Linked DNA regions of Homo sapiens. The protein of the gene in region 1 purifies or fractionates together with the protein of each later gene. This does not show direct contact. Each region holds a gene or a part of one and is shown on either strand. Other genes may lie near its edges.

What was found.
Region 2: the proteins of DYNLT3 (region 1) and CDH11 fractionate together in Homo sapiens (co-fractionation; one large-scale study listed by BioGRID). This does not show direct contact.

What each region holds. Positions count from the first base shown.
Region 1 is NC_000023.11:37,838,336-37,841,786, forward strand, and holds the end of DYNLT3 (dynein light chain Tctex-type 3), read right to left. Parts: coding exon 3,447-3,451; intron 2,771-3,446; coding exon 2,693-2,770; intron 2,317-2,692; coding exon 2,240-2,316; 3' UTR 501-2,239; downstream 1-500. UniProt on the Homo sapiens protein: Acts as one of several non-catalytic accessory components of the cytoplasmic dynein 1 complex that are thought to be involved in linking dynein to cargos and to adapter proteins that regulate dynein function.
Region 2 is NC_000016.10:64,943,858-64,947,690, forward strand, and holds part of CDH11 (cadherin-11 isoform 1 preproprotein), read right to left. Parts: coding exon 3,746-3,833; 3' UTR 1-3,745. UniProt on the Homo sapiens protein: Cadherins are calcium-dependent cell adhesion proteins. They preferentially interact with themselves in a homophilic manner in connecting cells; cadherins may thus contribute to the sorting of heterogeneous cell types.

The DNA.
Region 1 (3,451 bases):
TTAATTATGTTGTAATGGTAAATACTGGATTTGGGCTGCTATTTTAATGGTATTTATTCTGCATAATATGCATAATATATCTATGTGGTCCCATATTCATTTATCCTATTTAGAATTGCTTTCTTTTTTCTTTTTTTTTTTTTTTGAGACGGCATCTTGTTTTGTTGCCCAGGTTGGAGTGCAGTGGCACGATCTCGGCTCACTGCGATCTCCGCCTCCCGGGTTCAAGCAATTCTCCTGCCTCAGCCTCCTGAGTAGCTGGGATTAGAGATGTGTGCCACCACGCCTGGCTAATTTTTGTATTTTTAAGAGAGATGCGGTCTCACCGTGTTGGCCAAGCTTGTCTCAAACTCCTGACCTCAAATGATCCACCTGCCTCCCAAAGTGCTGGGATTACACAGGTGTGAGCCACCACCCCCAGCATTTCTTCTATTTAGAATTTCTAAGAGCAAGCAGAATGTCATTTCTCTAACTATTAAATGATTATCCAGAAGCAAAAGTACAGCACAGGAAGATAATATTTATTATATTTTAACTAGAAACAGAGCAGATAGCAAGTTCACCAGGTAAAAATTTTTTTTCTTAAATTATGCTTAAACAACAATAATAAAAAACAAGTCTGCATGTATATTTTGGTCACTATTATGATCTTCCAGGGCACAAAAGCCAGCAGCATAAAGAAACATGAATAATGACTGAGAATTTTTGATGTGCCAAAAACAAAGATCACTGCATTAAACTCCTTTATTTTGTTAATATTATTCTTAAACATTGAACAATTATTAATTATTGTTATTTGGCAAAATATCAAACATGCACATAGTATTCCTACAAGAATATTGCCTTAATATTGTCAATATTAACGCTAAGCTTATTCCTCTCCAAAATTCAATGAGTTATGGTTCCGCTCTCTATATGTATTAGTGTTAGTGGTAATATGCAAAACTGATTTTGTTTTCAGGGTTAAGTAGCAGATTGACTTCGCATTTGGTGGCCAGCTGTGTACCCTAATTTTTCATCTATTTTCTTAATAAATTTAATTACATTTCATAAGCCCTGAGATAACGTGCTAAGGATTGTATACTTTTAATCTATACTTTATTCCACTCAATTTGAACCCCACATAATAAGTCTTTTAAGTTATTTACAGATGGTTGTAACTAAAGCAATGACAAAATTTACTACTTGTATAGGTAAGACTGATAATAAGGCCTTTAACTAAGAGTTGCATATTTTATATGCACTTTTAACTTGCTAGGAGCAACTCTTAAAATTACATCTATAATTCTGTCAGAAAGCAATAAGTGCTTTTCATTTTGCTTACTTCCATATGTGTAACCAGATTCACTTTTTTCCTCCCTTGTAAAACAACTACTTTCTTTTCCTTCCCCAAATATTAATACGTCTTCCAACTGAACAATTGCTAAAAGGAACTTAGCATTTGCACAGCACATTGACAACTATGGTGCTTAGCAGAGACATATGCCCATAATAGGCATCTGATAAATGTTTGTTCCACATGGAATGAGTGAATTGTAAGGCAGCTGTTTGAGTCATACACTGTTCATCATATACTGCAACTAATTTTATTTAACTAGGAAATTCAGTTTACCAGATTTAATTTACCCTCAAGTGTAAATCCAAAAATTTGAAATTAAAAAAAATTGATTTACTAATCCTCAGAAAAAGTAAACAAGTTAATCATAGTTGTTACTATACTATTAGTTGATAGAAAATTAAAAAAATTATTACTTTCCACTAAATATTAAGTACAACTGAGGGGAAGAAAGTTTAAAAAAACTTAAAAATGTTAGCTAATTCTCATCATTTTCTCCACATTTATCCTTGCAGCTTTTTTGTTCATATATTTATTCCTGTTAACTTCTCTAGCTGAAAGAGAATTTTATTATCTGAATGGAGTTCCCCATCACCTTAGGTACAAAATATTAGTGAAAAGCTGGTGTAAATATAAGATTGTATTTTCATGTCATGCCATATTTCTAAATTTATTTTTTGCTAGCATTAAATTTTTCCTATTTAAACGATGCTGTATAGAATATGAGCTAATCTGCCAATTACTATGATATTGCTTGCTTATAATATTCAGTTTTTGTTGATAGCTTTAAAGCATATTGCACGCTTTTCATCTAGCACACTAGTAAACAACTATTACTCTTTTTGGAAAGGATACACTGACAAATTCTTAAGTTAATGGCTTTAGCCCAACATTTTTAGTCAGTTAAAGAACAATAGCAATGGCAAAAACGTTGACAATACAGTTCATGGTCCGGTTCTCCCATCTTACGGTACAGGTTCCTGAAACACAAAAAAAGGATTTTGAAATACCAGCAAAACATAAAAATTATCAGAGAATATATATATATATATACACACACACACACACACACACACATATACACACACACACACACACACACACACACACACACACACATATATATATATATATATACACATACATTTTTCACATGTTTTAATATCTTATTTCCTTCAACCTGTTAAGTTTTCACATTTCATATCGGTCTGAAGGTATACTTGTTACTAGGTACAAAGCAATACTGTTGATAGTCTTTTCAGAATTTAATCAGAATTAAATAAGTACTTGGTTAAAAAGTGCAGTTTGACTTTGCTAAAAGTTGGATTTTGTGTAAATCAGCTTAAGATCTCTTACCATCAGATGTGGTATCCCAAAAACAGGAGCTGGCTGTGTGAAAGCCATATGCGCTCTTCTGGACCACTGCACAGGTCACTGCAAATAAAGTCACAGAATGAGGGCACTTACAGACAAAGGAAAAGAGAACCAAGGTCAAAGTGTGTGAGTTCAGAGCTCTACAAGCCGAAAACAAGACAAAAAACAAACAAACAAACAAAAAACAGAAAACAAAGCGTTCAGCAAATAGATTGAAAAAAAAATAAAAGACTCTCATCTTTATCTACCATCATGATTTTGACCCCACTGGATTCAGTTGGTTTTCTGACCATTGTCATTACCATTGGTGATTGTATTGCAGGAAAAATATCAGTCAAATTCTGTGCTTTGTACCATGGGCAGAATTCAGACACAGAAATGCAGGAAATACTCCACTTTATAAACAGTTGCTGTGTGGAATTACAGGTAAAGAGGCATGGGACTACCGAAAGAAACACAGTTGAGCTAAGGGGGGGTCTCAGTGGAAAGAAAGAACTGATGGAAATGCAAAGGGTGATGCTACCAAAGAAAAGTAGCTCAAACTGCCTTTGAGTAGTGAAAGATCTTCATCTTTTAAGTATTATTATAGATTATCTTTGAATGAGTAAATCAGAAGTCCTTTATACCCTTTTAGTATCCAACTTAAATGTCTATTGTACATATACCTTCTCAAAATTCAGAGAAAATCACAATGACAAAAGCAAGTGAACTAGTGAGGAAGGATACTGATACTTACCAATA
Region 2 (3,833 bases), on another chromosome or scaffold:
CATGGAGCTTACATTCTAGTGGGGCAGTCAGTCCCACCCACCCACACACATACATAAAGCCAAAAAGCAAAATAAGTTTAAAGAGTTGTCATCGATACAAAATAACAAGGGTGACCTGCTTTCCATGGAAAAGGAACGTGTTTTTTTTTGTATCAGGAACCGAAAGATGGCCAGTGTGGCTGGAGCATCGTGCACTGAAAGGAGGATGGAGTGGAATGACACTGGAGAGGTTCGCAGGGCCCTGTTCATGTAAAGCAATAAAATAAAGGCATCAGAATTCATTTTAAGTCTTTGGGAAGCCAGTGAAGAGGTTTAAGTTACGAAGTCATGTGATCTGGGTTGTGTGTTAAAAGTATCCCTCTGGCTTCTTTGTGAAGAGGAGGTTGGGAGGCAGAGGGTGAGCCAAGAGGTGGGGTCAGTCTTCCGGGTCAGAGATGACCATGGCCCAGACCAGGCTGATGGCAGTGCAAGAGCAGAGAAGTCTTTCCTCTTCTCCATCTCCAAATTACTGAATTATTTCAGGCCCTCATTCTATCTCATATTGACCTTTGCAAAAGCCCTCCTGGGGCACACCTCTGGGTTTATATGCTCCTAATCTGTCCTCCACACTGCCTGCCAAATAAATTTTGCCCCTCTTCTGCTCAGAGACTCCAACTGCCCAGCCCCCATTCACCCCCATTGTCTTATAAAGTTTCTCAAAAAGATGTGAAGGATATGTCACAATGACCCAGGAGCAGTTTCAAATACTCCTGACCTGGTTCCACCTGACATACAGAGCCATGATCTCTATATTTTTAAGCAATTCTCCAAGAGGTGCAAATAAACTACTCTTTTATCTTCCCTGTCACCCCCAGAAACCCAGGCCTAAAAGAAATAACTTAGCTAAACCCAAGATCTGTCCAGAATTGCCACAGCTGGCCTAATTTCCGCTCACACTCTATATCTCACCATCTCCTTCCTGTTATATCTTTTATGTTCTTCCTTCAATTTGGAAGGAGAGAAAATATCTTCTTGCATTTTCTAGGAGGGCAAATAGGTAAATAGGTGATTATAAGACAACAAGGTGGATACTTTGGTACAGGGCTGAATTATCAAAAGATGTCAGAAAAGGTAGTAAGATTCATTCTGAATCCTCCAGTAAGTGGAACAGGGTTTATAAAATAAGATTTTGATGAATTAATGAATGAATCAATGAATGAATGATGACTAGAAACAATAACCATTACTTGAGGAAAAGAACAGAAGCATGTTCCTTCTTTTAGCTGCATAGATGGTATAAAACAGTGATTACTTTAGAATAAGGAAGGACCGTTTAAATTAAGACTTCTTTTAAGGCAATGTGCTCCAAATGAAAAAGGACTCCACTAGTTGGGAAAGACATTTTATTTCCAAGTTTCTAAGAGTGTTCTACAAACAATAGAGGCTTAACGAAAAAATAAAAGGTAAAAAAAAAAAAAAAAAAGAAAAAGAAAAACAAGTATTCTTAACTACTGAAAAGTAAACAGCCTTTTTAAAAAAGACTTCAACATAAAAATGCGAAAATGTAGTTGTCATCTCTAATCCAAATACATTCCTAGAGAAAAGGATCATCCATGGTGACAGGGTTACTTACAGCTGTATACTTATTTAAATGCTATTCATATTCCTTTTGAGTTATTTCTTCATTGCAAATTCAATTGGAGATCTGTGCAAATCTAGCAAAATATTCTTTGGATTACAAAAACTATATAAAAAAATGAACACAACCTGCAATTATGGAAGTATTGAGAATGTGTAATCCTTCACTGAGATGAAAGATTCTAAAGTGACATTGTCCACAAAATGTATTCCATTGAAGTGTTCAGCCCAATTTGATTTCAATGCAAAGTAAAATGGAAGTGAGCACTTCATAAAAAACATTTCTTTGTATGCATGTTGACTAAATCATAAAAATAGTACATAACATGATATCAAGAAATGCTTGAAACAAACTTTCACAATAAAGTCAGAAAAAAACTGTAAAAATTGTCTGCAATCCAAGAAAAAGCACGTGCCCTGTGTGTAGGGGGAAAGAGGGAAAGCACTTGCAGTGTGACTTTATGTGGTCTTTCCCCAAGTATTGCTACGTTTTGACCTTTGGCCCAACTGAACAGGTGAAATGCCCTTCACATAAGTTTCAATCCCCAAGAAACTAGCTGGAATGCAGGGGACTGTAGACACACTCCTGGACCAAATGGCATCGACTCTCAGAATCCAAAATGGTCCCTGCCCTCATTCTGAGCTTACGGCCCCAAGCATATTCTAAACAAAGCTTTTTTAAATGAATCGCCCATTCTCATTAAAACATAAAATGCCACATCATTTTACAATTAGTTAAAATTACAGGAGGAAAAATAAGCAGTTTCAACTATCAAGAGTCTTACAATAGCCTGGTAAGTTCAACAGAAGAAAAAATAGAATAACATTAGAGTCTGGGCAAATTTATATTTTTGACTCTAGTCCCCCAGTTCCCCAGTGCTCAGTGTGGGGCATAGAATGTATACCTGGAACATTAGAGTTCTGATAGCTCCATTCCCTCATGGATTCATCTCTCATAACCATCAAATTACTGATATACAAGATAAATGCATACTATATAACACATATTGCAAAGTCATAGACTGACCTAGTTCTTTCACATCCTTCTTTTTTAGAAGATGTGTGTGAAGAGAAGCCAGGAGGTTAACACCAAGAATGTACAAAAAAGCTTTACATGATGTTACAGAATCTTGTCTGAAAAAACATTTGTAAAACATATTTGATTTTAAATAAACAATAAAAGCAGCAGACAGACAACAACAGATCATAAATAGGGTTATTAAAAGATCACAATTAAATTAGAAATATAAATGGATCATTAGAAATACTTAACGTTTGTTTCAATGTTAAGAATCAAACCCAGAATTAAAAAAAAATCTTTTTTTATTTCAAAGATTGCTTCTTATATTGAAGCTCATATTAAAGCAACAGTACAATGTTCATAAAATATAAGTGTGATGCCGTAACATTTTCTTACATGTCAGAATACTGATATTTATACGTATACTAAAATAAGAACTTTAAAATTGTACAAATAGATACATTAAAAATGACATAGAAATAGGGCGTCTCTCACTGAAACAAGACAGTTATATCTGGCACGTATTAGTTTAAGATGAAAGTAGAAGCAAAAAGATTTACAAGAATCAGCAGTAACAAGATTGATGCTCAAGAGACATAATTGTACATTGTATTGTACATACATTGTATGGGTTTAAGCTGGCTGAATATTATATATTTCAAGTTTAAAAATGCACTACATATAGAGTGTCCAGAGTTTAAGGCGAAATTACAGCTCAGAACTGTTGTCCTTTCTAATTTTGTGGAAGCTTCTTTGACAACTTAAAAAAGAAGAAAGACTTGGATGTTCATAACACATAAACAATTTCCCTTCATTGTCAGTTCAGCGTTAGACTTCTCCTTCACTTAAATATTTTGTATGCCAAGTGTTTTTTTTTTCTAGCGAAGTTGATAAACAACTTCAATATTTGCCTTTTTGTGAGAAAAGGTATTTCACAGTATTTACCACTTTGATGTCCTCGCAGTTTTATTAAATGTATCCTCTCTGTAAAACTTTGCCTGTTTTAAATGAGCCTTTCCTTGATTTAAAAAAATACCTGTTTACACATCTTCTAGATTCTTGAGAACGCCAGACACAGTTCTTAAGGCCAAATTTGTATCGTTATTGTTAAGAATCGTCATCAAAAGTGTCTTTGGAACCATACAAATCTGCTAGTTTCTTAAAACGAGGTCCCCAGTTCTGTAGATAATCATAG